7 linked regions of the Homo sapiens genome follow. Changing the gene in region 1 together with any one later gene gives a genetic interaction. Each region holds a gene or a part of one and is shown in the gene's direction. Other genes may lie near its edges.

Region 1 (3,427 bases):
AGGGCATCATCCCAGCCAACTACGTCCAGAAGCGGGAGGGCGTGAAGGCGGGTACCAAACTCAGCCTCATGCCGTGAGTACCACGAGGAGGGGTTGGGGAGGGAAGGGGCCTTGGTCCTCCTGAAGGAGCATCAGGAGCAAGCAGGGAGGCCAGAGTGAGGGGCTTGGGTGTTGGGGAGGGCCTCAGGAGGAGGTGCAGGGTGCGGGTGCGGGACCTCACAGAGCAGGGCTGGGGGCAGAGGCAGGAGGGTGGCAAAGAAGGGACAGGGAGCAGAAGAAGAGGGCCTCAAATGCCTGACTGAGCGAGTGCGAGCCACGGGTGCCAAGCAGAGGGAACCCCTTCAGAAAGGGGAGCCAGGGTCAGTACCTTTGGGCCACCATGACCTCCAGCCCTGCTGCTCCCCAGTTGGTTCCACGGCAAGATCACACGGGAGCAGGCTGAGCGGCTTCTGTACCCGCCGGAGACAGGCCTGTTCCTGGTGCGGGAGAGCACCAACTACCCCGGAGACTACACGCTGTGCGTGAGCTGCGACGGCAAGGTGGAGCACTACCGCATCATGTACCATGCCAGCAAGCTCAGCATCGACGAGGAGGTGTACTTTGAGAACCTCATGCAGCTGGTGGAGGTGAGCTGGGGGGTACAGAGCCTTGCTCCCACCCTCACACACCCTAAACCCATCTGGGGCCCTGGCTTCTAGCTCCAGCCCCACTGCTTCTGCGTGGTGACCAGCCATGTGGGGCAACTTCTGTGAGCCCTTGTTTCCTCACACCTTGGTGGAGCAGCTGCTGCGTGCCAGGACTCACCTCTGACCCCACAGTGCCACCATGAGGAGGGGAGCCTTATCCTCATTTTATAGACCAGGAGTTGAAGGTTCAGAGCAGTTAGGGGACCCACCTGAGGTCCCACAGATATAATTTGGTGCCAGGACTAGAATCTGAGTCTGTCTGATCCCAGAGCTAACTTTCCTCCAGCCACTCACAGACCTGCATGCTCAGAAGCGTGTGCAGAAACATGAGCCATGCGCCTTGATCGCCAGGGCCCCTGAGGCTCTCGCACCTGCACGGACATGCCCACAGGTCCCTGCAGCTTCCCAGGCCAGCTCTGCCAGCCCTGGCCAGGCCACACCTGGCATCCGGTAGCCACAGGAAGCCTCCCGTGTCCCTCTGTATTCACTCTTATCTCCCTCCCCTACTGGCCTGGCTTGGCCTGTGGCAGGTGAGGGTGGGGTCCTGGGCACTCCTGGCTAGAGGCTGGTTTCAGGACTGAGCCATGGGTTGCCCTCTGCATCAGATACCCATGGGGCCCAGAGTGGTAGCAGCAGCTGAGTGTCCAGCAACCGCATGTAGGGTGGCATGGGAAATGGGCCATACGTCATAATCTGGGACTTCCCTAACCCCTGCCCTACCAGAAATGGGGAGCCCTCCCCACTCAGTGACTCCAGGCTAGGCGGGGCTGGCCTCTGCCGCCCTCTGGTGGTCAGGCCTGGACGGTGCATATGGGGCACCTTGGGCTGTCTCTGAGCACCCTGCCCCCCACACCCTGCAGCACTACACCTCAGACGCAGATGGACTCTGTACGCGCCTCATTAAACCAAAGGTCATGGAGGGCACAGTGGCGGCCCAGGATGAGTTCTACCGCAGTGAGTGCACCCCACCCCAGACCTCTTGCCCACCCACCTCCTCCCACGCAGGCTTCCTGGCACTGCCCCATCCAGGAACCTCCAGAGAACCCCAGTGCCTGATAGTCCAGTCAGCCTCTGTCATCCCAGCCATGTCCCTAGTGGCCTCCAGGCCCTCACTGGCCCCTCCCCACAGGCGGCTGGGCCCTGAACATGAAGGAGCTGAAGCTGCTGCAGACCATCGGGAAGGGGGAGTTCGGAGGTGAGCTGGGCCGGGCCCCCTGGGGGGGTTCTGAGGGACTCCGAACTTGGGAACAAGACCACCTCTCTGCCCCCAGACGTGATGCTGGGCGATTACCGAGGGAACAAAGTCGCCGTCAAGTGCATTAAGAACGACGCCACTGCCCAGGCCTTCCTGGCTGAAGCCTCAGTCATGACGTGAGTGGGGGCGGGGTAGGGGGGAGGTTGGCCTAGGTTAGGAGTGAGGCACCAGCTTCCCCTTTCTGACCACTCTCGTCCTGCCCCAGGCAACTGCGGCATAGCAACCTGGTGCAGCTCCTGGGCGTGATCGTGGAGGAGAAGGGCGGGCTCTACATCGTCACTGAGTACATGGCCAAGGTGGGCACCTGCCGAGACCCGGCACTCAGGCCTTCCAACTGCCCCGAAACCCCCACTGTGCTCTAGGGCCCCTGCTCCCTCAGTCCCCCGACCCCAAGTGAGCTTTTAGGTCACCAGGGCTGGGCTTTTGTCCTGGTTTACCATTCATTGACTGTAACATTGGACAAATCATGTCACCTCCAAGCCTCAGCATCACATCTGGGAAATGGAGATAATAACAACTTAGAGATTTGTGAGAGTCAAGGGATAAGGCATGAATAACACAGAGCAGTGTCCGGCATGGATGTTCTGGCCCCTCCCCACTCCTTCCCTGTCTCACACCTCCCTGGAGTGTCAACACCCACCCGGCCCCAGCGTGCTGTGTGAGAGGGCTGCAGGGCACGTCTGACCTCGGCCTGGTCTGTCCTTCCTGCCCCCAGGGGAGCCTTGTGGACTACCTGCGGTCTAGGGGTCGGTCAGTGCTGGGCGGAGACTGTCTCCTCAAGTTCTCGCTGTGAGTGAAGCAGCCTCTTGGATGGGTAGGGTTTGAGGGGTACCCTGCCCTGCTATGGGAGCCCCAGTCTGAGGGGACATGTGGCTGGCCTACCCCCAGAGATGTCTGCGAGGCCATGGAATACCTGGAGGGCAACAATTTCGTGCATCGAGACCTGGCTGCCCGCAATGTGCTGGTGTCTGAGGACAACGTGGCCAAGGTCAGCGACTTTGGTCTCACCAAGGAGGCGTCCAGCACCCAGGACACGGGCAAGCTGCCAGTCAAGTGGACAGCCCCTGAGGCCCTGAGAGAGAAGGTGGGGCTGGCCTCCCCTGGGGCCTACAGAGGTGGGCAGGAGTCCTGGGTCACTCCCCACCCTGGAGTCCCAGGATCTGACGCTGCTTCTTCCATCCACATGGCAGAAATTCTCCACTAAGTCTGACGTGTGGAGTTTCGGAATCCTTCTCTGGGAAATCTACTCCTTTGGGCGAGTGCCTTATCCAAGAATTGTGAGTATGGGTACTGGGATCAGGGTGGCTCTTGGAGCACCGGAGGGGTTGGCAGGGGCGTGAGCCTCCTTGGGCCCTGCCTCCCCAATCAAGGCCTAGAAGCCTCAGGCCTGCCCTGGGGAGCTCACAGGCCACTCTCCGGGCCTGGGTCTGCGGCAAAGCTGATGGGCATCCCTGAGAGGCTGCTGGGTAGGTGTCCTCTCTGAGGC
Region 2 (5,259 bases), on another chromosome or scaffold:
AGACGGGTGCCTTGCCTGCAGAAGGCGCCATGAAAGGTGTGCTGTTACTTCTCCCCTTGCTACGCCCCCTTTACTTCCCATGCTGTGTCGTCCCTCCCTCTCTGTCCTACTCTCAGGCTGCCCAACTCCTTATGGATCCCTCTTCTCAGGTTTCCCCAGCTGCCTGCTTTAATCTACTTTCTCCTAGACAATGTCCGGACCATTCTCTCACCTGCATCTTATCTTTTGCTTAGACTATTACGCAGTTACCATTTCACATCTCTCAAATTTTACATCTCTTAACTCTTGTGACATTTAGATTTGTCTTCATCTATTGTTGCAATGTGTCTTTCTCTGCCGCTTTTCTGGTAGCACCCCGCCACCACCACCCCCCAACACACCTTCCTGTTCCTCTATTTTTTTTGTTGTTGTTGTTGAGATGGAGTCTCGCACTGTCGCCCAGGCTGGAGTGCAGTAGCGCAATCTCAGCTCACTGCAACCTCCACCTCCCAGCTTCAAGCAATTCTCCTGCCTCAGCCTCCCAAGTAGCTGGGATTACAGGCACCCGCCACCACGCCCAGCTAATTTGTTGTATTTTTAGTAGAGACAGGGTTTCACTATGTTGGCCAAGCTGGTCTCAAACTCCTGACCTGGTGATCCACCCGCCTCGGCCTCCCCAAGTGCTGGGATTACGGGCATGAGCCACTGTGCCTGGCCTCTGTTCCTCTATTTCAAATTCATTCATTCACTCATTCGGCAATTTGCTTCAGTTTCCTTATGTTTGCCTCTTTCTCATCTGTCCTCTTTTCCATTTTATTCCTACTCTGTCTCAGTCCACTTACAGTTATATTTCCTATCTGTGTATTTTATAATATTTGTGCTTTAATACTTTTAAAATATCCTTTATTTTACTGTTTCTTCTCTTCCCTTGTCATATTTTAAAGTGTTTTATTTCTCAGCCTTCTATATCTTTGCATTAATTCTGTTCCTCTACAATAGAGTCCGTTCCAAGCTTTCTGTCTTCCTGTGTCCTTCCACGGCTCTGGCTCTCTCTGCATTATTTCCTATTTATGGAATACAAATCTTTTACCCTTGTATTTTTCTCACTCCTCTCCACACACCCCTTGACTCGCCTTTCCCCACGCCCCTCTAGGTGCTTCTTGGTCTTTGCTTTTCCTTTTTATTTCCTCACCATGTCAATTTGTATTTTTCCTCTCTCTTACTACTGTATCATAAATGGGACTCCCGACAACCACTCCCGTGTGTCTGCCTGGAGGCAGCAGTTTTAAGAAGGGTTGGCCACTGAGCCTCACAGAGGGACCCCTGTCTTATGCTGCAGCAAAGTACCATAGACTGGGTGGCTTACAAACAAATTTATTTCTCACAATTTTGGAGGAGAGAAGTCCAAGAGTCACCTGTCAGCACGGTCAGGTTCTGGTGTGGGCCTTCTTCCAGGTTGCAGCTGACACCTTCTCATGTCCTCGCATGATATGAACAGGGCTAGAGAGCGTTCTGGGGTCTCTTTTATAAGGTCACTGGTCCCATCATAAGGACTCTGCCTGTGACCCACTTACCTCCCAAAGGCCCCCCACCTCCAATCACACCAAGGGTTAGAATTTCAACGTAGGAATTTTGAGAGGACACAAACACCCAGGCTATGACACGGTCTTTAGAAAATCCCAGAATGAGTTGTCAGGTTCTTGGGAGATCTGTAACTGTGGGAAAGCGTCACATCCCAGGGAAAGCCACCAGCTGGGAGAGCCATCCCAGACAAGGCCTGCTCCCTTTGGGCGGACCTCTGTGGAGAAGCCAGCTTGGCACGTTCTTTCTCCTCCACTGCAAAGTTAAATGCGAGAAGGTAGAAACCCAGAGGCCATGCTGGCGCTGAGAGATGAGCCCCACTCACCAGATTCAAGATCCCAAGGTAGGCACAGACACAGGGCAAGCAGACTCCAATTCCAGGAGTTTGGAACTTAAATAGAGTCATAGAGACACTCAGATCTGATCAAAGTGAGTGCACTCGGTGACATTTCCTAAAGGGTTCTGACAACTTCATCTGCAACTGGGGCTGCCCCAGGTTCTGCACCTCCAGCTCACAGCGCACAGGTGTTGCTGAGCTCCTCTAAACAATGAACAGCACTAACAAGTGGGTTTAGGTAGGGATGCCTGCCAGCTGTGTGGATCAGGCCCCAGGGGAGAGGCCGGGGTGGAGGTCAGCCCGGGAGTCTGCACACCTGCAGCTTGTTTCTACCGCACACAGATGGGCATGGGTGAAAATCTTTACAAGTGCTGCAGACTTTGGCAAAGCCTATAAATTCAGAGCAGCCCGGAGAGGAGAAAGGAAAGTGGATGTGGGTTCAGGCCGCATGAAATGGAGATCCGATTGCCTGACTTAGCTTTGAAGCGAATCTTCTCTTTCCTGGACCTGTTCGGCTTGCTGCAGGTTTCCCAGGTGAACAAGGTAAAGGCCTTCCACCTCCCACTGCCCCCCAAGCCCGCTGCTTCTCTCGACCAGTTTGAGCACCACTTTGCAGAATAGCAGAGGGTTACACTGAGGCTTTGGGGGTTAGCATTCTTCATACTGAGGGCCTCATATTCTGTTAAACGAAAAGGACAAGCTGATATCCAGGAGTTGTGCTGACTAAACAGTCCTTGAGGCTCCCATTTCAAGCCCTAGGAAATCAACACTTCTTCCTGTGAATTCATGGGAATACCCAGTGCCTGTATTAGCAGTGATAGGTCTCTGTTGTTACCATTTCCTTATCTCCCCACACTGAGAGTGCTTTGAGAGCTGGAATCCCATCTGATTAACCTGTGCGGGCCCAGCTCCCAGAACAAATAATAGCAGAGGATTACCCTTGCTCTCTGATGTAACTGATTGCCTGCTTGTCTCTTCCTTTCTCTCCCATAGCATTGGAATAGGATTGCAGACAGTGATTACCTGTGGAGGTAAGGGAAGGGAAAGGGCAAGGAGGGAAGGGGAGAGGAGATCATCTGACTGCGCACCCATGCTGTGTCCCAAGGCCTGTGTGGCTGTGTTGTGAGATATACACAGGAAAGTTAGTGTGAGTAGGGGGTTGTGATATAACCGGGGCTCTGAGGAGGTGAACTGACTGAGAACAGCCTGATGGGACTGTGACTCTGTTTCCAGGTCACTATCTCTGCAGAGATGGGACTGCAGCAACTTCACCAATCAACACCTGGGCACACACACATGGAAGCAATTTTTCCTGCATCAAAGAAGGAAGGAGCTTCGGTTGGCATTGGCACAGCCGCATAACTTTATCTACAAAGTAACTAAGAACATCGGTATGGGTATAGGTGCCCTAGAGGAACATGAGCAGCTTGTTTTCAGAGGTCCACTCTATTTGATTTTTGCTGTGTGCAGTTGTGTATTCTCATTCAGTAAAGGGAAAAGGAATTAAAATTGAACCAGACTGGGTTGCCGTGATAGCCATGTGATATCTCCCTGCTTCCTCTCTTGTCCCCACCATCTGTGCTGAATGAAGAAACTAGAGTGATTTTTTTTCACAACATAAAATCAGGTCCTGTTACTCCCTTTTTCCTAAGGCTTCTCATCCCTCCCAGAATAAAAATCAGAAAAAAAAAATTAATGGGAAACTCTAAAAAACAGAGGCTTGGCTGGGCACAGTGGCTCATGCCTGTAATCCCAGAACTTTGAAAGGCCGAGGTGGGCAGATCACTTGAGCCCACGAGTTCAAGACCAGCCTGGCCAACAAAGTGAGACCCCCCCTCCATCTCTATGAAAAAATTTAAAAAATTAGCCTGGGTGACAGGGCCAGACCCTGTCTCTAAATAAATGCATACATAGGCTCTACAGCTGCAGCCTCAACCTCCTGGGCTCAAGAGATCTTCCTGCCTCAGCCTCCTGTGTAACTGGGACTACAGGGGTACACCACCACAACCAGTTGATTTTTTTTTTTTTTTTGAGGTTGAGTCTTGCTCTGTCATCTAGGCTGGAGTGCAATGGCACGATCTCGGCTCACTGCAGCCTCTGTCTCCTGGGTTCGAGTGATTCTCCTGCCTTAGCCCCCTGAGTAGCTGGGATTACAGGCATTTACCACCATGCCCAACTAATTTTTGTGTTTTTAGTACAGATGGGGTTTCACCATATTAGCCAGGCTGGTCTTGAACTCCTGACCTCAAGTGATCCACCTGCCTTGGCCTCCCAAATTGCTGGGATTCCGGGCATAAGCCACCATACCCGACCATATTTTTTAAATTTTTTTGTAGAGATTAGGTCTCACTTTGTTACCCAGGCTGGTCTTGAACTCCTGAACTCAAGCGATCCTCCCACCTCGGCCTCACAGGCGTGAGCCACTGTACCTGGCCTAATCCTGATAACACTTTTTTTTTTTTTTTTTTTTTTAAAAACAGAGTCTCATTTTGTCTCCGAGGCTGGAGTGCAGCAGCATGATCTTGGCTTACTGCAACCTCCGCCTCCTGGGTTCAAGCAATTCTCATGCCTCAGCCTCCCAAGTAGTTGGGATTACAGGCACCTGCCAACATGCTAATTTTTGTATTTTTAGTAGAGACAGGTTTAGCATGTTGGCCAGGCCGGTCTAGAACTCCTGGCCTCAAGTGATCCACCTACCTCAGCTTCCCAAAGTGCTGGGATTACAGGCGTGAACCACTGTGCCTGGACTTGATAACTCTTTTAAAACTCAGAAAAGTTCTCTGATGGAGAGATTTTAATATGCCTTTTATATCTATGGAAACTGAGGATAAAAAGGAAAAGCAAGTTGGCCAACATCTCCCAAATGGCCAGTCTGCCGTGGGAACCTGTGTTTGGATGACTCTGGAGCCCAATTTCTATCTTCTCCATATTGTTACCCAAACCTTCCTAAGAGGGTACAGAAATATTTTAAATTATCTTCTTTTGGTTTGGATCATCCCTTAACTATCTGGTGGCCAAGTCTTCTATGTTTCCTTCTAGCATTTGAGACGGAGTTGGCTTATCTCTCAGGAAATAGACTTACAGTGGATGAACAGGAGAAATCAATCATTTGTAGTGTATCTCCAAAGCAAGAGCTTTGTGCCTGGGATGTGCAAGAGGTGAGTCTGGCCAATATGTGGCAAAAGTACTGCATATTTGCATCCATCCTGTTCTATATATGAAACGGAAGTGCTGAGAGGAAAATATTCGGAAGTGGTAACAAAAACAAAGTGTCAAATCAGGTTTTCTATCATGTAATTTGTGACCTTTTCATTTGGACCATAGACACACATAGAATTCACTTTTGTTGTTGTTGTTATTTT
Region 3 (4,618 bases), on another chromosome or scaffold:
CACTCACAACCAGTGATTCCAATATATAAAGCCCTATCAAGCTCCAAAATTTAGAGGCATATAAAGGCTGGGTGCAGTGGCTCATGCCTGTAATCCCAGCACTTTGGGAAGCCAAGGCGGGCAGATCACTCGAGGTCAGGAGTTCGAGACCAGCTTGGCCGGCATGGTGAAGCCGTCTCTACTAAAAATACAAAAATTAGCCAGGAATGGTGGCGTGCACCTGTAGTCACAGCTACTCAGGAGGCTGAGGTGGGAGAGTCGCTTGAACCTGGGAGGTGGAAGTTGCAATAAGCCGAGATCGTGTCATTGCACTCTAGCCTGCATGATAGAGTGAGACCCTGTCTCAAAGAAAAAAAATTAGAAGCACATAAGCATATAATCCTACATGAACAAGAGTGAACAAACAACAAAATTGTGATACTTGTTTCAGATATTGTTGGACATTTAGATTGCGTGTACTCCTTTAACAGACTACAAGAATTTTTTTTTTTTTTTTTTTTTTTTTTTTGAGATGGAGTCTTGCTCTGTTGCCAGGCTGGACTGCAGTGGTGTGATCTCAGCTCACTGCAACCTCCACCTCATGGGTTCAAGTGATTCTCCTGCCTCAGCCTCCTGAGTAGCTGGGACTAAGGCACACGCCACCACGCCCAGCTAATTTTTGTATTTTTAGTTGATATGGGGTTTCACCATGTTGGCCAGGATGGTCTGGATCTCTTGACCTTGTGATCCACCCACCTCGACCTCCCAAAGTGCTGGGATTACAGGAGTACGCCACCACGCCTGGCCAAGAATATTAACATAATTATTAAATAGAGTCTAAAATTTAAGTATGTTAAAGTGATTAAATAAATCTATTTAAGAATGAATAAAAATAATGAGGTCAGGCACGGTAGCTCACACCTGTAATCCCAGCACTTTGGGAGGCTGAGACGGGTGGATCACCTGAGGTCAGGAGTTCGAGACCAGCCTGGCCAACATGGCAAAACCCCATCTCTATTAAAAATACAAAAATTAGCCAGGTGTGGTGGCGGGCACCTGTAATCCCAGCTACTTGGGAGGCTGAGGCAAGAGAATCACTTGGACCCGGGAGGCAGAGGTTACAGTGAGCCAAGATCGTGCCACTGCACTCCAGCCTGGAAAACAAGAGTGAAACTCAGTCTCAAAAAAAAAAAAAAAAAGAATAAAAGTCTATCAATAAAGAATATGATGTGAAAATGTTTACATATGTTTAAGAAAAAAGGCTACAAATTAGTAGGTTTGATGGATTCTAAATATACTTATATATGTATTGATGTATAATAGTAATCGCTTAGAGAATTCCAAAGTGTAAACAGTGATTATCCCTGAGTGGTGGGATTTTGATGATTTTCTTTTCAAAAAATTGACAATTGTATATTCTGATTATTAAAGATTGACTATTTTTTACTGTTAAAATAAGGAAAAAGTTTGTTTTAAAATAATCTAAATATTTTCAACTTTGATAATCATAGCAATTTCTATGCTATTATAACTGAAAAGGGAAAATACATTTTTAAAAATAAGAGTTCCCAATCCAGAGGAGTGTAAGGAACTTTTGGATCTCAATTCCAGTTCCAGTGAGGCCCTGGGTCTAAGACCTTAACCTGGGTGTTTTTGTAGGTGTTTTGCTTTTTAGGGTCATTAGGGCAAGTACAGGTTGTACCACTCTTTCTGTTCTTTTACGAAGGCAGCAGTGTTTGTTCTATTGTTTATATTTGGTAACTTCTGAGTGACACGTCTCTCCTTTGACATGCATTGAGTCTTTGCCCCAGGAGGCTACAGTGACTCATAAGTTTAAAAATATCACAATTCTTAAAAGATCAGGTTTCTTTTGTCTTCTATTTATAAAGAGCTCATCGTAACCCCTTTTATCACAGTCAAGAGTAGGTTCTGAAAGATAGCACTGGGGTGCATTTGTCTTTTTGCTTTTTATTTTCATGTTGAGCAAACTCTGCCTACTGGTATTACATGAGTTCTCAGATCCCACAGGAAATATCTGCAAACTATTTTTCCCACTTGACAAAAGAAGCCAGTTTTTACCTGAGCGTCTGTTTTAGGGCTTTTGACAGGCAAAAATGGCTAATCCCAAGGCCCCAGGGGAGTCTGCATTCTGTCCCTGCTGATCACAAGGATTTGAAGGGAGAGACTCAGCCCACCCTTAATGAAGGTACTGGAAAAGCCTGGTACTTACCCCATTACTATTGCCTGTTTTTGAGAAACCAAGAATAGGAGGATGTTCCCTTTTTCCACATTTTCATTTTGGCTACTGAAAATACTATGGCTGGGTGTGGTGGCACACACCTGTAATCCCAGCACTTTGGGAGGCCGAGGGCAGATCACTTGAGGTCAGGAGTTCGAAACCAGCCTGGCCAACATGATGAAACCCCGTCTCTACTAAAATACAGAAATTAGCTGGGCATGGTGGGGCATGCCTGTAATCCCAGGTACTCGGGAGGCTGAGGCACGAGAATTGCCTGAACCTGGGAGGCAGAAGCTGCAGTCAGCTGAGATCGTGCCACTGCACTCCAGCCTGGGTGACAGAGTGAGACTCTGTCTCAAAACAAAAAAAGAAGGAAAATGAAAATACTATCCTTATTAAATAGGTTAAGTATAGGTTTCATCAATGCTCCCTTTGTTTTCTTTTTTTTTGAGATGGAGTCTCGCTCTGTCATCCAGGCTGGAGTGCAGTGGCGTGATCTCTGCTTACTGCAACCTTCGCCTCCCAGGTTCAAGCGATTCTTCGGCCTCAGCCTCCTGAGTAGCTGGGACTACAGGTGCGTGCCACCATGCCCAGCTAATTTTTGTATTTTTAGTAGAGACAGGGTTTCACCATATTGGCCAGGCTGGTCTCGAACTCCTGACCTCGTGATCCACCTGCCTCAGCCTCCCAAAGTGCTGGGATTACAGGCGTGAGCTACCACGCCCGGCCAGGTGCTCCCTTTGCTAGAGATAAGGAGTTAATGGTATCTACTTTGGGATCTAGATGTCTGAAGTAAGGGTACATTGAAGGTAAAATTTGTTCTTTATCTTCCCTAGATTGAATGAGGGTCACTGAAGATACAGTGTTTACTCTTTGTCTGCTGTGAAAAAGTCTGTTCCCATCTCTAGGTATTTTGTGGTTGATGTTTTATCACTGTACTTGTTTTCCTTTCACTCCACTGCATGTAAATTCTTGCCTCACAGTGTAATATTGGCAGAGTAACTTGAAGTTCAATTCAGTAAATATTTATTACCCTTGAAGTTCAATTCAATAAATATTTATTGAATCGAGCCATTCAATATGCTAACTACAGAGATACAGAGCTGAGTAAAGCATACCTTCCCCTTAAGGAGATCATAGTCTCTCAGAGGAGACAGACAAATGAACAAATAAACCAATAGTGCAACCACAGAAGTATGGGTGAGGTACACAGTAAGACAAAGGAGGGAATGAATGATTATCTATAGCCACCTCAAACCCTTTTTGGAGCAAATTAGGTTGTAAATAAATAAAGGGAAATAACCATGGTAAGAGAGGGATGCAGCGACAGCATTCTCAAAGATGAATGCTATACAGGTAACTAAGGGTGGTTTTGTAATGGTTTGATTATTTCCCAAATACAGGTATTTATTTGAACTGAAGGAAGATGATGATGCATGTAAAAAAGCCCAGCAAACAGGAGCGTTTTACCTCTTTCATAGTCTGGCTCCTCTGCTTCAGACTTCAGCACATCAATACCTGGCCCCCCGGCACAGCCTGTTAGGTAAGTCCAGAGTGGACCAGTGGCGTTGACCAGCCTGTGGCCACTACGCAGAATTCAGCCCATAATGAATTCTAAGAAAGATCCTTGAACTTTGGAGTCTAGATTTTTCAGAAAGCTTTTGAGTCTCATGCTTGTATAACTGCTTCTGCCAACTAATAATTTATTGTATGAACTCTAGTTGTCCAGTCAAATATTATTTGGTGATGAAATGAACCACTAATGCCTTAAACCAGGGGTTGGTAAAACTGCTGTCCAAATTGTATCTGCTACCTGTTTTGTAAATTAATTTTTATTGGAACATAGACGTACTCATTCATTGACATATTGTCTATGGCTACTTTTGCACTACAATGCAGAGTTGTGACAGAGACTGTATGACTCACAAAGCCTAAAATATTTAGTATCTCTTTCCAGAAAAAGTTTGCCATTCTTTGCCTTAGAGCAGTGAATTCCAGCCTCCACAGAGGTACACAGTTATGCTAATTCAGAGTTCCATCATGGCCAGGCGCGGTGGCTCACGCCTGTAATCCCAGCACTTTGGGAGGCCGAGGAGGGCAGATCACGAGGTCAAGAGATCAAGACCAACCTGGCTAACACGGTGAAACCCGTCTCTACTAAAAATACAAAAAAATTAGCCGGGCGTGGTGGCGGGTGCCTGTAGTCCCAGCTACTCGGGAGGCTGAGGTAGGAGAATGGCGTCAACCCGGGAGGCGGAGCTTGCAGTGAGCCGAGATCACGGCACTGCACCCCAGTGTGGGTGACAGAGCGAGACTCCATCTCAAAAAAAAAAAAAAAAGTTCCATCATAACTTCATTTTTACTAGAAGGGTCAAGATTAAAAGTGAATTAAAATGAATT
Region 4 (3,898 bases), on another chromosome or scaffold:
GGCAGGTAATGTAAATGAGTTAATTGAGTCCCATGGGAATGTATTAGGATTAGTGGGGACTGTTGTGTACTGGACAACCCATGCCTTTATTTTTTTTTTGTCTTTAATTTTAATTTCTTTTTATTGAGACAGGGTCTTGCTCTGTCACCCCGGCTGGAGTGCAGAGGAACGATCACAGCTCACTGCAGCCTTGACCTCTGGGCTCAAGTGATCTTCCTACCTCAGCCTCCCAAGTAGCGGGGAACACAGATGTGCGCCATCATGCCCAGCTAATTTTTTAATATTTTGTAGAGACAAGGTCTCACTGTATTGCTCAGGCTGGTTTCGAACTCCTAGACTCAAGCAGTCCTCCCACTTTTGCCTCCCAAAGTGCTGGGATTTTAGGAATGAACCACCATGCTCAACCCATTCCTTTATTTAGAAGAGCCAACTGCTCCTTTTTCAGCAGATTGTTACTGTTTTAGAGTGCAGGCACAGAATGACCACTCTTTCTATTTTTCAGGAGAAACTGGAAATTTAGATCATTGTGTTTTCTAATTGTTGGAAACTAGTTAAAAGTATTTTTAAGCCTTTTTCAGGCCAAAGAAAATATGTCTGTGGACTGGATTCTGCCCAATGGTTACTGGATGATGACCCTCAATAAACAAAATGGGCAGGCCTTATGAGACTTAATCACTGCAGTTCTCTATACATAATCACATAGACTTTTTTTCTTTGTCCTACTCTGCCAGCTGTCACCTTTGTACCTTGGGTGCCCTGAGTGGCTAAAAGATGGAGTGAGATAGAGAAGGTTTGTTTTATTTTTCATCTCCAAGCTGGCAGAAGGGACAGCTTTGGACATATTAGTAGCTTACCTTGTAAACGGTTTTTGAGATACTCTCAGAATCTCCACAGGGGGAGGAGATGGCATGCTAGAGCTGAGGTACCCTGGTCACCCGATTATCAGGTCTGGGAGGATTTTCCAGTGATGCATTGTCAGGGCACCAGCTTTTTTCCCAGTTTAACCTTCTTTTACTTCCACCCTTTAAGTAAATTTCTTGAGCTCAGTAAGTTGTTTCCTAGTTTAGTAACTTTGGTTATTCTCAATAAAGCACAGAACTATGATGTGTTCCTAGGCCAGCTCTGGAAATGTTAAAAGCTCTGCATCTTTAGTGTTTCTCTGGCTTTTTTTTTTTTTTTCTCTGATGGAGTCTTGCTCTGTTGCCCAGGCTGGAGTGCAGTGGTGTGATCTTGGCTCACTGCAACCTCCGCCTCCTGGGTTCAAGCAATTCTCCTGCCTTAGCCTCCCAAGTAGCTGGGACTACAGGTGCACGCCACCACACCCAGCTAATTTTTGTATTTTTAATAGAGATGTGGTTTCACCATATTGGCCAGGCTGGTCTTGAACTCTTGACTTCGTGATCCGCCCACCTCGGCCTCCCAAAGTGCTGGGATTATAGGTGTGAGCCAATGCGCCCAGCCTTCTCTGGCTTTTAAAGGTATTGAGTGAACATAAACCTTAGAAGGGCCTATTGCTGGTCCTTTAGCTCCCTACTACCATCTACCTTTTCAGAAAGTCCATCAGTTTTTCTTGGTTTGCCCAGCTCTGTATTAGACACAAAGGCATCATGAAAAAGAAAAACAAAATTGCGCTTTTGCCTTTGGAGAATTTATTTGCTAGTTGGATAAGAATAATTTTTTTTTGAGACAGAGTCTCTCTCTGCCACCCAAGCTGGAATGCAGTGGTGTGAGATCTCGGCTCACTGCAACCTTTGCCTCTCAGGCTGAAGTGATCCTCCCATCTCAGCCTCCTGAGTAGCTGGGACTATAGGTGCGTGCCACCACGCCTGCCTGATTTTTGTGTTTTTTGTAGACACAGGATTTTACTATGTTGCCCAGAGTCCAGTGGTGTCATCATAGCCCATTGCAGCCTTGATTTTTTTTGGCTCAACTGATCCTCCTACCTTAGGCTCCCTAGTGGCTGGAACTACAGGCATGTATCACTATGTCCCACTAATTTTTTTTTTTTTTTTTTTAATTTATGTTGCCTAGGCTGGTCTCTGACTCCTGAGCTCAACCATTCCTCCTGCTTTGGCCTCCTAAAGTGCTGGGATTAAAGATGAGAGCTACTGCACCTGGCCAAGGAAATGTTTAAAAGTGATTAAGAGGCCGGGCGTGGTAGCTCATGCCTGTAATGCCAGCACTTTGGGAAGTCAAGGGAGGCAGATCACCTGAGGTCAGGAGTTAAAGGCCAGCCTGGCCAACATGGTGAAACGCTGTCTCTACTAAAAATATAAAAATTAGCTAGGCGTGGTTGTGGGCGCCTGTAATCCCAGCTACTCGGGAGGCTGAGGCAGGAGAATCACTTGAACCCTGGAGGTGGAGGTTGCAGTGAGCCGAGATTGCGCCACTGCACTCCAGCCTAGACGACAAGAGCGAAACTCTGTCTCAAAACAAACAACCAAACAAACACAAAACCAAACCCCATAAAAGTGATTAAGAAAAAAAAAAAAACCACTTAAACACTAGTGTACTAAAAACAGCTATTTAGAGCCAAAGAAAATAAGGCATATATGAAGAATTGACAGTTACATTAAAAATTATATATTTCACAAAAATGTGAATGTGCAAATAACACTTAAGGAGATGTCAGGAAGATAGACGTGAAAAAAGAAGCATTATGATATGGCTGGTAGGTAAATGTGGGTTCTTTTTACCTGTATGGAAGGTTTGTAACTTCTGGTAGAGAAGCAAATATATATTATCAAAAAAAGGTTTGCCAGTGTGGCTCAGAGTTATTGTCTTCTATGAAGTCATTTTTCTCATGAGGTGGATGTGTGCTGTACCACTCTTGAAGAGTCAGTCTTGATGTTATTTCATTTGTTCATCTAGTATTTATTGATCATTTTTCTTACTATGTGTCAGGCTTTGGAGATAAAAGGGTAAATAAATCATGGTCTTTCCCCCTGAGATAGAGCCTGATAGTCCCATGGTGGTGATACACTAAATAAATAATTATAAATTAGTATAAGATGTGTTTATTTTTATTTTCATTTATTTATTTGAGGCAGAGTCTCACTCTGTCACCCAGGCTGGAGTACAGTGGCACGATCATACCGCAAGGCAACCTGGAACTCCTGGGCTCAAGTGATCCTCCTGCCTTAGCCTCCCAAGTAGCTGGGACAACAGGTGTGCGCCACCACACCTGGCCAATTTTTCTTTATGTTTTGTAGAGACAGGGTCTCGCCATGTTGCCTAAGCTGGTCTTGAACTTCTAGGCTCAACTGATGCTCCCTCCTTGGCCTCCCAAAGTGCTGGGATCACAGACATCAGCCACTGTCCCCAGCCAAGATATGTTTAGAGATAACTACAAAGTGCTGTGGGTGGCCGGGCATGGTAGTTCATGCCTATAATCCCAGCACTTTGAGAGGCCGAGGCAGGCAGATCACTTGAGGTCAGGAGTTTGAGACCAGGAGTTTGAGACCAGCCTGGCCAACATGGTGAAACCCCAACTCTACTAAAAATACTCTGCTAAAAAAGTGGAAAAAAGGGCTGGGCGCAGTGGCTCACACCTGTAATCCCAGCACTTTGGGAGGCCGAGGTGGGCAGATCACCTGAGGCCGGGAGTTTGAGACCAGCCTGACCAACACGGAGAAACCTCATCTCTACTAAAAATACAAAATTGGCCCGGCATGGTGGCGCATGAATGTAATCCCAGCTGCTGGGAGGTTGAGGCAGGAGAATCGCTTAAACCTGGGAGGCAGAGGTTACGGTGAGCCGAGATTGTGCCATTGCACTCCAGCCTGGGCAACAAGGGGGAAACGCTGTCTCAAAAAAAAAAAAAAAGTGGAAAAATAAATAAATAAATAAATAAGTGGTTTTAAGATTGTTCTTAGAACCACTGTGATATTCTGACTCC
Region 5 (4,618 bases), on another chromosome or scaffold:
TTCCCCAATATAATGTTTATTTTTTACTTATAAATATATGCTGATTATGAAAATTGTGGAATATATGAAAAGTATATAGAAAAAGTTAGAATCATCTATAATCTCCCCATCAGACATTAACATTATTAACATCTTGATATATTTTCTTCTTTAATAATTAACTTTTATTTATCTAGTCACCATAAGACTTTATAAAATCTCTCCAAGAGAGAAACTATCTTTCTAGAGAACTGAATTATACCTTAACTGGGGAGTTAATTTACTTCTGGATAACTTACTGCTGTTCAGCTGGGGAAATATATTGTTGACAGATTTTTTCCTTTCTACTTCACTTGCATTAGAGACCCAACTTCCTGACTGCTGTAGCATCTCACTCTAGGAATAAAATCCAAAAGGAAGATTGTAGTTTGTTTTTTGTTTGTTTGTTTTTTGAGACAGAGTCTCACTCTGTCCCCCAGGCTGGAGTGCAGTGGTGCCACCTCGGCTCACTGCAACCTCTGCCTCGCGAGTTCAAGCGATTCTCCTGTCTCAGCCTCCTGAGTAGCTGGGATTACAGGTGCTCACCACCAAGCCCGGGCAATTTTTTTTGTATTTTTAGTAGAGACGGGGTTTCACCGTATTGGCCAGGCCGGTCTCGAACTCCTGACCTCAGGTGATCCGCCTACCTCAGCCTCCCAAAGTGCTGGGATTACAGGCATGAGCCACTGTGCCTGGCCTGTTTTTGTTTTTTTTTTTTTTTTTTAATCCCGATGTGAACAGATTTTCTCTTCCTCTAGATTACAGAAACTTCCTGTTCCTGATCAAAATGAATAAATATTTAAAAGCATAAACTGGCCGGGTGCAGTGGCTCACGCCTGTAATCCCAACACTTTGGGAGGTTGAGGCGGGTAGGTCACTTGAGGTCAGGAGTTCGAGACCAGCCTGGCCAACATGGTGAAACCTTGTCTCTACTAAAATTATAAAAACTAGCCTAGTGTGGTGGTGTGCGCCTGTAATTCCAGCTACTCAGGAGGCTGAGGCAGGGGAATCGCTTGAACCCGGGAGGTGGAGGTTGCAGTGAGCCGAGATGGCGCCATTGCACTCCAGCCTGGTGACAGAGAGAGACTCTGTCTCAAAAATAAAGTAAATGAAATAAATCTTACGTTTAAAAGCCCTTTTTCATGGATTTTCCTCAGAGACTTTGCAGAAACCAAGGGGTCAGTTATTTATCAGTTGGAACATTTTGGACTTTATGATCACAAATGCTTTTTAATCTGTGTAACTTCATCTACAGAAAACCATGGTCCATTAAGACTAGAGCGATCCCTCTATCTCTTCATGCCAGGCTTCTACCAGGGAGATAACCTGTACACATTACTCACGAGCATAGTGCGTAATCCACATAGGGTAATGTCTGCAGATTTGAGTATGTGTTCCCTAATTCTTTATCTAGCATGTAGAGTATAAATAACACAATACTGGATGCTTTTATGGATGAACAAGGAATAATACCTAGCACCTTTCTTCTAGAAGTTTATAGTATGAAGAGAGAAGATAAGATGCATCTGAGAAACTAGATTAAACTTGACATTGTTTGATCAAGAGCCACGTGAGCAATACCAACATGGTTGGAGACAGAGGAGAAATCCATCGTGGTGAATCTAGAGCAGGGTTTCTCAACTTTGGCACTAACATTTTGGGCCAAACAATTCTTTGTTTTGGGGGGCTGTGTGTTGTAGGGTGTTTAGCATGGCCTCTACCCATCGGATAGCAGTAGCAACAAGCTCCTCCCCACCTCTGCCCCAGGTACACACGGTTGGTATAACCAAAAGTATCTCCAGGTGTTGCCAAATCTGATCTAGAGCAAGAAAAAACATGGAACATGAAAACAGTGTGTTTAAAATAAAGCCAGAGAGGGCTGGGTGCGGTAGCTTATGCCTGTGATCGCAGCATTTTGGGAGGCTAAGGCAGCTGGGTGGCTTGAACGCAGGAATTCGAGACTAGCCTGGGCAACATGGCAAAACCTCGTCTCTACCAAAAATACAAAAATTAGCCAGGTATGATGGTACGCACCTGTGGTCCCAGTTACTCAGGAGGGAGGTGAGAGGATTGCTTGAGCCCGGGATGTTGAGGCTGTAGTGCGCTGTATTCACGCCACTGCACTTTAGCCTAGGTGACAGAGTTGCCTTGTCTCAAAAAGCAAATAAAGAAATTAAAATAAATAAAAAATAAAATAAGCAAGCCAGAGAGGAGTAGTCTACCTTATTATGAATTCTTTCAGGACAACCCCCAAGTCAGTCAAACCTTCCTATCCCTGCTCTTTTTTTGTCTGCTTGTGCCTTTTCAATGTACTTAACATGCCAGGTGTGGTAGCTCATGCCTGTAATCCTAGCACTTTGGGAGGCTGAGGTGGGCAGATTGCTTGAGCTCAGGAGTTCGAGACCATCCTGGACAACATGGCAAAACCCCATCTCTACTAAAAATACAAAAACTAGCTGGGCGTGGTGGTGGGTGCCTGTAGTCCCAGCTACTCGGGAGGCTGAGGTGGAAGTATCACCTGAGCCCGGGAGGTTGAGGCTGCAGTGAGCCGTGTTCAGGCCACTGCACTCCAGCCTGGGTGACAGAGGGAGGCCCTGTTTCAAAAAAAACAGAAAAACCAAGTACTTAACAGTTTGTTTTGAACTCCAGTGTATACTTGATTGAGGACAAAGACCATGTGGCAAATCTTTAAACCTGCAGTGTTCAACTTGGCACTTTGTAAATAATAGTTTCTTTTATTTACTTTTTTGTTTTTTAGAGGGTGTCTAAAAATTCTATGCTAGGATTTAGACTCATCTAAACTAAGGACATAGCTAGTACATAGCACTGTGCATAGTGCTGGATAAAAGATATTCTACTTCTGGCCGGGCACAGTGGCTCATGCCTGTAATCCAGCACTTTGGGAGGCCGAGGCAGGCAGATCACGAGGTCAGGATATCGAGACCATCCTGGCTAACACGGTGAAACCCCATCTCTACTAAAAATACAAAAAATTAGCCGGACGTGGTGGCGGGCGCCTGTAGTCCCAGCTACTCGGGAGGCTGAGGCAGGAGAATGGCGTGAACCCGGGAGGCGGAGCTTGCAGTGAGCTGAGATCGCGTCACTGTACTCCAGCCTGGGCAACGGCGAGGCACGGTCTCCAAAATAATAAATAAAAAAAATAAAAAAAGAAAGATATTCTACTTCTTCCCTTTGTGGTCCCTCAGATCATTATCTTAACCTGTGTAGAATAGTGAAGAAGGGACAAGCCCAGCCTTTGGAATCATCTAGACCTGGTTTCAAATCCTGGCCCTGTTACCTTAATAGCTTTGTGATTTGGGTGAGTCACTTAACCTTTCAGAGCCTCAGTTTTCCCCTCTAGAAACTTACTTTTATTGGTATTTGCTGTATCATGTTTATGTTTATACAGTTAAAAAAGCCCCTGGATTTCTCATTTTAACAGCATCCATTTGTAGAGCATCACTAGGAATTAGATTCTGTACTAGACAGAGCCTGATGCATATATGTATACATGTATATATGAATGTATATAAATATATATGTGTGTGTATATATATACACACATATACAAATATACTGTATGTTATGTGATGCCCACAAAAACTCTATGAAGTAGACACTATGAGCCCCATTTTGTAGAGGAAATTCCAGTTTAGACTGACTACAAACTTTCCCAAGATCACAGTGATTGATTGGCAGAGCCAGGATCCCACTCCAAAGCCTGTACTTTTCTCCTTGTTCTCTGCTGTCCCTGTACTAGGTGGATTCATCACCATTCATTGCTCTAATTGGACTTTGTTTTCTTTACAGGGCCATGCTATGATAGTGGAAGCTTATCCAAAATAATAGATCCAGAAGAAGTGACCTGAAGTTTCTGTGCAACACTCACACTAGGCAATGCCATTTCAATGCATTACTAAATGACATTTGTAGTTCCTAGCTCCTCTTAGGAAAACAGTTCTTGTGGCCTTCTATTAAATAGTTTGCACTTAAGCCTTGCCAGTGTTCTGAGCTTTTCAATAATCAGTTTACTGCTCTTTCAGGGATTTCTAAGCCACCAGAATCTCACATGAGATGTGTGGGTGGTTGTTTTTGGTCTCTGTTGTCACTAAAGACTAAATGAGGGTTTGCAGTTGGGAAAGAGGTCAACTGAGATTTGGAAATCATCTTTGTAATATTTGCAAATTATACTTGTTCTTATCTGTGTCCTAAAGATGTGTTCTCTATAAAATACAAACCAACGTGCCTAATTAATTATGGAAAAATAATTCAGAATCTAAACACCACTGAAAACTTATAAAAAATGTTTAGATACATAAATATGGTGGTCAGCGTTAATAAAGTGGAGAAATATTGGAGAACTGTTTACCTCATTTTTTATTCATCAGGGGAGGGTGGTTCTCTTGGCTTAGGACCAGATTTTTGCCTTTAATTACTCATTTATAACTTCTAACTATTGTGGTCAATGCTGAGGCTGCTGGGAAGATAAAGACAATCCTGTTTATTTATTTATTATTATTATTTTTTTTTTGAGATGGAGTCTCACTCTGTTGCCCAGGCTGGAGTGCAGTGGCACAATCTCGGCTCACTGCAACCTCTG
Region 6 (4,618 bases), on another chromosome or scaffold:
AGCACACAATGATATAAAATTATTTATTTTAGATACTGACAGGAAATATAATATTTAGAATGTTTATCTTTGGACAATAGTAGATTTAATTTTTTTCTTTCAATTTTGGTGAATTTTTTAGTTTTTATCTGTCTGTGCATATTATTTTCTGTTCATAAGCAAAAAAAGTTATCACCATTGCTTCATATCAAATTTAAAAAAGGAGATAATGGCCAGGCTAAATATGCTTTCTCTTCTTCTTTTCTGTTTATTTAGTTAGTGACCCCCTCATAGTTTTCATTAAGCAAAATAAAATCCCTATTTTTACTATATAAGAATTGAGAAATTGCTCTATTTATGAATATACAAAGCACTTTTTTGGTCTAATGTATATCTAACCTAAATTTTGGAATTATATGTAGAGTACTCTAAATGTACAACAGTAGTTGTTTAAGTACCTATATATGTAAGTTGTCGGGTGTTAACAATTAGTAGAGAGGCAAGAAAAATAAAATTTATAATAAGCAGTGGATGGCACTAATTAGCCATGTACTCTTTATTTGGAAAAAGGGAAAGATACAGTCTATCCTCAGCTAGATAGCTACAAATATATTTTATGAGTATATAAATGAGGAAATGAAGAAAGCACTTGGTAAACTATAAAGTATTAAACAACTGTAAAATGATATGTTTGAATGATCTTGTAATTGATTATCCTTAACTTTTTTATTTTATTCTTTAATAGATTGCTATGAAGAACTGTAACACACCTTTATTAAGAGCTTACTATGGTTCCTTGGAAGACAAGAGGTCTTTGTCACTCAACCGTTAATAAAAAATAAGATTATTCTCTTCTTCCTGATCATAACTGATTTTAAAGACTCTAATTGTATTCTATGGAACAATTACTTGAGTTTTGGTTAACAGAATCTTTAACCTATTCATCAAAATTCTAATTGTACATTTCACATTATAAGTAGAATAAATAGGGTAACAACACATTGATTATTTGTGTTAAAGGACAATTAGAATAGCATGAAAACTTGAAATCCAAGCACAATTTTAATATTTCCTTTTAAAGCCATTCTCCATGGAAAGACTTGCAAATAATAAAAATATATTTCTTTATTTTGTTAAATCATGAAGGGTCTAATGTAACAAAAAATAGTAGATATAAATATTGAATACAATCTAAATGCTGTTTAATTTTAACAGTATTAAATTATTAGCAGTAGTTGTGGACTGAAGAACTACTGGTTCAATCCAGACCTTGGTTCTGAACTGAAAAGATTTGTGATACTTAAGAACTATTATTCTATTAATTGAAGATTTATCCCGTGTGAGGCCACACATTGAAGTTAATAATAAAACTGGCTTAATTACAAATAAAATATAGAATGGAATGAAGGAAAAGTTGAGGAAAATATGTGTTACCAGATTTCTGGTTTGCATAATCACTGAACTTTACCACTGGTAATTGTGAGGTTCCTGTTACGCTGTCTACATATGTGTTTAGTGTCTCTTGCCTCTACCGAAGGCAGGGATCATATGTTATTCTTCTCTGAATCTCTTCACCTAGCACAGTGCTTGATACATGGTGTACATTGATGTTTATTGAGTGAATGAGCATGAAGCCACAATTTTTATGACAGTTCTTTAGAGATGTATTTTGTACCCACAGGCACATCAGTATATGTAATTTGTGAGCTCTATTAGCAGATGTAGAATTGTTTTTGGGGTCCTGATGCTGTTTTAGACTAGTCCTGACTGATGAAACAGTTTAAATATGAAATAGTCACAGCTCTAACTTAAGTAAATTTAAATATTTGTTGCTTAATTAGTTATTTCAAAATAACTTTCAACAAAAATTTGCTATCATCAATTGTGATTCAAATTATAAATTAAAATAACTCTTTGACTTATTGCCTATAATGTTTTTCTTTTGGCCTTAATATTAGGTTTGGAATCATACTTGAAAAGATTAAAACAGTAATTAATGATGATGCAAGATACATGAAAGGATGCCTAAACATGAGGACTCAGAAGTGCTATGCAGTGAGGTCTAACATAAATGAATTTCTTGACATAGCAAGAAGAACATACACAGAGATTGTAGATGACATAGCAGGTAATTTCTTTATTTGATAATGTTTTTTGTAGGGATAAAACAGCCTTTTCAGGACATGCTGTCCTTTTTTGCTGCTGATGACTAGCCATACATATTTTAAATTTATTTTTCGTTACCAAAACATAAGGTTAGCATGTAGTGCCATTTAAGGAAACAGCATATGTGGCAGCCTTCATACTAAACTCCTTTTGAAAACCTTCCATTGCCAAGTGCAATAGCTCATGCCTATAATCCCAGCACTTTGGGAGGCCAAGGAGGGCTGATAGCTTGAGTCCAGGAGTTTGAGGCTAGCCTTGGCAACATAGCTAGTCTTTTGTAGAGACAAGACGTTGTCTCTACAAAAACTGAGAAAATTTGCCAGGCATGGTGATGTATGCCTGTAGTCCCAGCTACTCCGGAGGCTGAGGTAGGAGGATCACTTGGATCACTTGAGCCCAGGAGGTCGAGACTGCAGTAAGTTATGATTGTGCCACTGTGCTCAGCCTGGGCGACAGAGTGAGATCTGTCTTGAAAAAAAAAAAAAATTATTAGAGTTTGAAAGAGCAACAAGACCTCCTATTTATGTATAAAATAAGAATTTAAAAACCATGTGACTCTTTAAAACAGAGTGATTTTTCTCATTAAAATTTATTCATTTTGTTTTGTTTTTGTTTTTCTTGTTTCTGGTCACCAGGAATGATATCACAACTTGGAGAAAAATATAGTCTACCTTTAAGGACAAGTTTTAGCTCTGCTCGAGGATTTTTCATCCAGATGACTACAGATTGTATAGCCCTACCTAGTGATCAACTTCCTTCAGAATTTATTAAGGTTCATTTTAGAGTGGTTAGGAAATTAGTGTTTCTGATTTTATAGAATTACATCTACATATTTTTGGGACTTCTTGAGTTTTGCAAGCCAAATTTCTGAATGTTCTGTATCTTCTCCTATTCCTACCCACCCACCTAACTAATGTACTAATCTAAGAGTGATTTAGATGCTTTTGCAGAAATACCAAACTCAGTGTTTTCCACAGTTCTGGGAGCTTGGTGTAAGAAAAAAAGGAAAATGAAGAAAGAACATCCAAAAGCTGTTTATGATAAAAGAAATTAGGAAAATACCACACCATTTGCCTGTTAAAGGTTTAAAAAGTCCTGAAGTAAATAAATCTACTTAACTTTTAAAAATCTAATATTTCCAAACCTTTGTACCACAGGAATAATTTTTCCTATATAGCTCCTTTACAATATACCAGTTTGGGAAAGTCTAACCCACTCTAATCTTTGTTCTATCTGCTTAGGGGGTACTTTTTGATAAGAACAAACCATTTAGCTTTCAGGCTTTTAGAGCTTGAGTACGATTAGAGATTGAGTTGAGGTTCAGATATAGGACAAGGGCTGCGACAGGGGTCAGAGATGGAGTGAGGATCACTGATGTCCATCATGCGTGTTACTTGGTAATAAGATGTAGTGTTTTTAACATTTTAAGACCTATCAGAGTAGTCATCCCAGATGAACTAGGTCAAAATATCCTGCTTTTTAAAAATGAATGTATGGGTTAAAAAATTTGGCTTTATCCTTTGAAGTGATCTACCTCTTACATTTCACAAATATTATTTAGAACTTTCTTTGTGATACCATATCTCAAAGAGTAAAATGATTAACCTAAATACCCATATTTCTGTTGTTTAAAATCTTACATTTCATAGTAGTGTGCATTTATCTTGACATTTGTTTTTTAATCTCCAAGCAGATTTCTAAAGTGAAAAATTCTTACAGCTTTACATCAGCAGATTTAATTAAAATGAATGAAAGATGCCAAGAATCTTTGAGAGAAATCTATCACATGACTTATATGTAAGAGCATTTGAAGTATTTGAATATTGAATTAAATTGGTTTAATTTGAGAAACTGTTACAATTGTATTAGTTTAATTTTTATCTAATTACAGACAATTGTAGAATTATGCATGTTAGCAAAGGAAGTCTGTCTTTGTGATTAGAATCACTGAGCCTCACAGAAGCTTCGGGGAAGATCTAATTGCAAACAAATACTTTTATAATTGATATTTCTGTAATGTGCATTCTACCATGATGTAGAACTTGGCACATCAGGGGCTTACCTGGGCTTCGTTCAGTTTATTATTTTCCTATGGTCTGTAAGTCCTCAGCTTCTTATACCTTGATATTAATAATTCAATAGCAATATCACAATAGTGTCAGTTCTTTTGCTGGTCATGAAATAGTAGCAATACAGCCAGAAAGAAGAAGTAGAAGATTTAGAACACTTATTAGGCTGAAGTAATAAAGAGAAAGGTTGGGCTTTCAAGACAATTTCAAGGCATGTACCACCAACATTTTAATATATAGTAAGTTTTGGGTACATATTTATCTTTGCAAGAGAAAAACTTTTTGCACTATATCACAGTATAACTCTGCCTTATAAAAACTTAAATAATTATATTATTCAGATATTGTGTCTGTGTGCATGTGTGTGAGTGAGAGAACAAGAACGAGAGAGAAAGAAAAAATGG
Region 7 (4,575 bases), on another chromosome or scaffold:
ATCATTCTGATTCTCATTGTTTATTTTCATTCACTGAATTTCTTTTTCCCATTTTAGATCTCTATCTGGAATGAGACCATAGAAATTAACAATATGAGAGACTATTAGCCTCAATTTTTATTCCTGAATTTTTCTTTGCATGCACATGAATTAGATGAGAAACCATGTTATTTCAGCAATAGTACTGAAAATCCATTTGAGGGGAAGTATCTTTGCACCTATTTGCTATGTGACTTGGAAAAGTTACTTGGAAACAGATATGTTTTTACTTCCTTGCAAGGTGCTCTCAAAGCAAACAAGAGCAAGTCATGTTATCACAAAACACTTTCCATCACAAAGGGAAAATTAAAATATATTTTGTAAAAATATTTTGAAAGCAAAAGACTAAAAATTCTAGAATTGAGCCATGTAAACATGCTCTTGTTAAAATGTGCAAAGGTTATATTTGAATATCTATTGAGTATAAAAGTTAAAGAGATCTATTTAAAGTAAATGAAGAAATTGAAGTTTTCATTAGTCATGGAAGTGGCAACATCAGCCATTTACTTGTATTTTAAGTGTTGTTCATCTAAAATAGCTATATTAGTCTTTATTTTGCTAGCAGATATTTTGAATGTGTAGGTTATATTCCAATTGATACTAATTGCTGATATTTCAACTACTTGGTAATATTTTCTTTAGAAATGGAAGGTAAATTACTATGGTAAAACAGCTTTAAACATTTAGTAATTAAGTCAGCTAATCCTAATATTTTTCTGGCTCCCCATAAAATTGAATGTCTACTATGTAACACTTTGTTATCCAATTTCCACAGAATCTTTTGAGCATATGAAGAAATCTGGGGATTATTATGTTACAGTTGTAGAAGATGTGACTCTAGGACAGATTGTTGCTACGGCAACTCTGATTATAGAACATAAATTCATCCATTCCTGTGCTAAGGTATGTGCTGCTTATAAATAAAATGGACAGCTGTTTTCTAGCACAACTGACTTTGAGTTTCCATTAGACAAATCTGTTTTCTCATTGATTTTCAGTGCCTCTTAGAAATCCCTTTTCCCAGTGTGTTCTGAGAGCTTTAAGAAAGAAAATGTATAACAGTATGAATTGTATGCTAAAATTGTTCTGTAAGGTGGATCAATTTGGTATAGGCATAGAGAAACCAAACAACTTAGCAGTAATGCACAAAATCCCTAATGTTACTCTTTTAAAAAAAACAACTCTGAATATACCACGTTAGCATAAATTTGTTTCCACATGGTAAAGGGTTCAGATTATTCCGTTCTAATTATGATACATCTAATGCATGTAGTGCCCTTTCATCCCTCAATAACTCACATAAAATAGTAAATAAAAAAAGAGGGAGAGAAAACCTTAATTCAATGAGAATAAGGTAGGAACACTTGGGATGTGTTCTGTCACACTTAGGAATTTCGGTGGGGTTTCTGTACTAGACATTAATTTTATTTGGATATCTAAAATAACTTGCTAGTAAGCAAGGAGTAGAATGATGGATATATTCATGAAAAGGTTACATTTTGGTGATGTTGATCCTGATATTTGTTTAAAGACAATGGGGTGGGAAGGTTGGGGACATAGCCAAAACAAGTTTAGGTCACAACTTGACTCATACTATTTCCTCTAATAAGTAAAAACATCTTTAAATTATTAACTTTTAATAGTAGTACTCTCATACTAGTAGGAAACAAACTTTTGGGCTAATCAGATTTGCCCCAGCTTCTCTGTCATATTTAAAAACAAAGGAAATGTTCAGCTATTACAGAATATTCTATGATCTCTCCTTCTCATAAGTTGTAGAAATACATACTGAAACAGCCTTCACTGTATAATATTTTTTGCATTTGATTTCTGTTAAGTTCAAGTTTACAAAATATACTACTTATTATCAGTAAATTCTTACCAACTCGTTTTAGCTAAAAACAAAAGTAAATGCTTACTCCTTTAAACATTGTAAATATTTTCAGAGAGGAAGAGTAGAAGATGTTGTTGTTAGTGATGAATGCAGAGGAAAGCAGCTTGGCAAATTGTAAGTAGGCAGAAACAAGGTAACCCTGGATAAATTTTGTTCCAATTTAGTTTCTTAACAAGATACTTGTTTGAAGTTCTTTTTGGCTTCATTAATTCTGAACTTATTCTCACTCTAATAGTTTAGACTGAATTTCATGAAGAAATAAAGTATTATTATACATATTTTGCCTTAAAGTTTGAAAATTGGAAGCATACTTCTTTACAGACAGTAACATCTTTAAATTACTAACTTTTTATAGTAATGCTCTCGTCCTAGTAGGAGATAAACTTTTGGGCTAATCGGATTTGCCTCAGCTTCTCTGTCATATTTAAAAACAAAGGAAATGTTCAACTATTACAGAATATTCTGTGATCTCTCATTCTCATAAGTTGTAGAAATACATACTGAAACAGCCTTCACTGTATATATCTAAATCATTTAAAATAAATATAAATAAGTGGTATTGATTTATTGCCATTTTATAAGAACTTGTAGTTCTTATTTATTATAATTTTTAGTTTTTGAGACAGGGTCTGTTTTTGACAGCTCTGTCACCCAGGCTGAGGTGCAGTGGCTCAATCTCAGCTCACTGCAGCCTCAGCCTCCTGGGCTCAAGCAATCCTCTTCAGCCCCCCAATTAGCTGGGACTACAGGTACACGCCACACCTGGCTAATTTTTAAAAATTTGTAGAGATGGGGCCTCATCATGTTGCTCAGGCTGGTCTCAAACAGTGCTCCTGCCTTGGCCTCCCAAAGTGCTGGGATTACAGGTGGGAGCCACTGTGCCTGGCCCAAGAACTTGCTTTTTAACACTAACTCTTCTGAGTTTTAAGGAATTAACAAATATTAAATACCTGCTTATGTACCAGATGCTATTCTAGGTATTTGGAATACCTCAGTGAACAAAACAGACCGATTTCTTGTGTTCTAGTCTATATAATTTATGTTTTTTTTTTTTTTTTTTTTTTTTTTAAGAGATGGGATCTCTTTCTGTTGCCCAGGCTGGAGTATACAGTGGTACGATCACAGCTCACTGCAGCCTTGAATTTCTGGGGCTCAAGTGAGCCTCTCGCCTCAGCCTCCCAAGTAGCTGGGACTACAGGTGCATGCCGCTGCACCCAGCTAATTTTTTATAGAGATAGGGTTTTGCTATGTTGCTTTGGCTAGTCTCGAACTTCTGGACTCAAGTGATCCTTGGCCTCCTAAAGTGCTGGAATTACAGGCATGAGCCACTGCAACCAGCCAGGCATACTTCAGTCAAGGTCTTTTGTTTTTTTTAAAAATAGGATTTTTTAGTCTGTTCAAACATGGGCAGACCCTTCAAGTTTGTATATCTTTTATAGTTTTTATCCTCTAAGGCACTTAGATCCACACTTTAATACTGGGTTTGGATTCATTAAGAAATTTTGTATAGATGTAGACTTGCTTTGTTTCCACTTCATATTAATTAGACCAATCTTGAGTTAATCTGATACACACCTTCACAAATATTAAAGTAGCTTTAAAAATGATTAAAGAGCAAAGCTATTATGTACTCATTTTATGTGGGTATGTCGACTGCTCCGAAGTTGTTTAAATAGATTTAAATAAAGAATTTTTACAAAATAATTTTGGTCATTTTTTTTTTTAAAGGTTGAGTTTTTAGTGTTAACATGCATCTTAAAATTCGTTTTTCTTTTTCAAGACAGAGACTCACTCTGTTGCCCAGGCTGGAGTGCAGTGGCACAATCACTACTCACCGCAGCCTTGACCTCTCTGGGCTCAGGTGATCTTCCCCCCTCAGCCTCTGGAGTAGCTGCGACTTTAGGCATGTGCCATCATGCCCTACTAATTTTTATATTTTGTAGAGATGGGGTTTTGCCGTGTTTCCCAGGCTGGTGTCAAACCCCTGGGCTCTAGCGATCGCCTGCCTCGGCTTCCCAGAGTGCTAGGATTACAGGTATGAGTCACTGCACCTAGCCTTAAATTTCATTTTTAAAGAGGGCTTAGGGTGAGTTTTGTATTTGTCCTGTTTATTAGTGAGCTGGAGATTACTAGATAAAAGTATATTTGACTCTAAGTAAAAATGCTTTGGTGATTTAAATGCTTATCAACTTACATGAATGCAGTGGGAAAAGCCATAATCTAAACCTGTTTCTAAGGAAACTTAAGTTTTATAACATTAATTCATATTGTTACTAGAATCAATTTTTATTAATAAATGCTATCTCCTCACCCTACCCCCTTTTTAAATTTCAGGTTATTATCAACCCTTACTTTGCTAAGCAAGAAACTGAACTGTTACAAGATTACCCTTGAATGTCTACCACAAAATGTTGGTTTCTATAAAAAGTTTGGATATACTGTATCTGAAGAAAACTACATGTGTCGGAGGTTTCTAAAGTAAAAATCTTGTAAGAAAATTGTCAAAGGGGCTAATGCTACAAGGCTACACTCTTCCTAGAGTTGAAATATTTTGTTGCTGCAGCCGAGTGACCTCCATAAATACTGGACTGAAAAAACATTGTAATACTACAAGTATAATGACATTTAGAAGATTACTTTGG

What was found.
Region 2: changes in CSK (region 1) and FBXW12 are lethal when combined (synthetic lethality), as found in Homo sapiens cells (one large-scale study listed by BioGRID).
Region 3: changes in CSK (region 1) and NUDT13 are lethal when combined (synthetic lethality), as found in Homo sapiens cells (one large-scale study listed by BioGRID).
Region 4: changes in CSK (region 1) and GBF1 together harm fitness more than expected from each alone (negative genetic interaction), as found in Homo sapiens cells (one study listed by BioGRID).
Region 5: changes in CSK (region 1) and HADHB are lethal when combined (synthetic lethality), as found in Homo sapiens cells (one large-scale study listed by BioGRID).
Region 6: changes in CSK (region 1) and MSH4 are lethal when combined (synthetic lethality), as found in Homo sapiens cells (one large-scale study listed by BioGRID).
Region 7: changes in CSK (region 1) and GNPNAT1 are lethal when combined (synthetic lethality), as found in Homo sapiens cells (one large-scale study listed by BioGRID).

Annotation. Positions count from the first base shown.
Region 1 is NC_000015.10:74,798,866-74,802,292, forward strand, and holds part of CSK (tyrosine-protein kinase CSK), read left to right. Parts: coding exon 1-73; intron 74-406; coding exon 407-626; intron 627-1,546; coding exon 1,547-1,640; intron 1,641-1,815; coding exon 1,816-1,881; intron 1,882-1,957; coding exon 1,958-2,057; intron 2,058-2,146; coding exon 2,147-2,237; intron 2,238-2,656; coding exon 2,657-2,730; intron 2,731-2,829; coding exon 2,830-3,025; intron 3,026-3,131; coding exon 3,132-3,218; intron 3,219-3,427. UniProt on the Homo sapiens protein: Non-receptor tyrosine-protein kinase that plays an important role in the regulation of cell growth, differentiation, migration and immune response.
Region 2 is NC_000003.12:48,370,418-48,375,676, forward strand, and holds the start of FBXW12 (F-box/WD repeat-containing protein 12), read left to right. Parts: upstream 1-1,801; 5' UTR 1,802-1,870; coding exon of another isoform or gene 1,871-1,903; intron 1,904-2,239; exon of another isoform or gene 2,240-2,266; 5' UTR 2,267-2,350; coding exon 2,351-2,440; intron 2,441-2,890; coding exon 2,891-2,928; intron 2,929-3,130; coding exon 3,131-3,288; intron 3,289-4,936; coding exon 4,937-5,055; intron 5,056-5,259. UniProt on the Homo sapiens protein: Substrate-recognition component of the SCF (SKP1-CUL1-F-box protein)-type E3 ubiquitin ligase complex. Promotes degradation of interleukin-22 receptor subunit IL22RA1 in resting and IL22-stimulated conditions by facilitating its ubiquitination.
Region 3 is NC_000010.11:73,116,397-73,121,014, forward strand, and holds part of NUDT13 (NAD(P)H pyrophosphatase NUDT13, mitochondrial), read left to right. Parts: intron 1-2,775; exon of another isoform or gene 2,776-2,792; intron 2,793-3,054; exon of another isoform or gene 3,055-3,126; intron 3,127-3,621; coding exon 3,622-3,761; intron 3,762-4,618. UniProt on the Homo sapiens protein: NAD(P)H pyrophosphatase that hydrolyzes NADH into NMNH and AMP, and NADPH into NMNH and 2',5'-ADP. Has a marked preference for the reduced pyridine nucleotides.
Region 4 is NC_000010.11:102,248,529-102,252,426, forward strand, and holds part of GBF1 (Golgi-specific brefeldin A-resistance guanine nucleotide exchange factor 1), read left to right. Parts: intron 1-3,898. UniProt on the Homo sapiens protein: Guanine-nucleotide exchange factor (GEF) for members of the Arf family of small GTPases involved in trafficking in the early secretory pathway; its GEF activity initiates the coating of nascent vesicles via the localized generation of activated ARFs through replacement of GDP with GTP.
Region 5 is NC_000002.12:26,286,090-26,290,707, forward strand, and holds the end of HADHB (trifunctional enzyme subunit beta, mitochondrial isoform 1 precursor), read left to right. Parts: intron 1-3,828; coding exon 3,829-3,864; 3' UTR 3,865-4,376; downstream 4,377-4,618. UniProt on the Homo sapiens protein: Mitochondrial trifunctional enzyme catalyzes the last three of the four reactions of the mitochondrial beta-oxidation pathway.
Region 6 is NC_000001.11:75,876,212-75,880,829, forward strand, and holds part of MSH4 (mutS protein homolog 4), read left to right. Parts: intron 1-724; coding exon 725-789; intron 790-1,937; coding exon 1,938-2,107; intron 2,108-2,780; coding exon 2,781-2,917; intron 2,918-3,838; coding exon 3,839-3,942; intron 3,943-4,618. UniProt on the Homo sapiens protein: Involved in meiotic recombination. Required for reciprocal recombination and proper segregation of homologous chromosomes at meiosis.
Region 7 is NC_000014.9:52,778,151-52,782,725, reverse strand, and holds part of GNPNAT1 (glucosamine 6-phosphate N-acetyltransferase), read left to right. Parts: intron 1-814; coding exon 815-942; intron 943-1,985; coding exon 1,986-2,047; intron 2,048-4,267; coding exon 4,268-4,415; 3' UTR 4,416-4,575.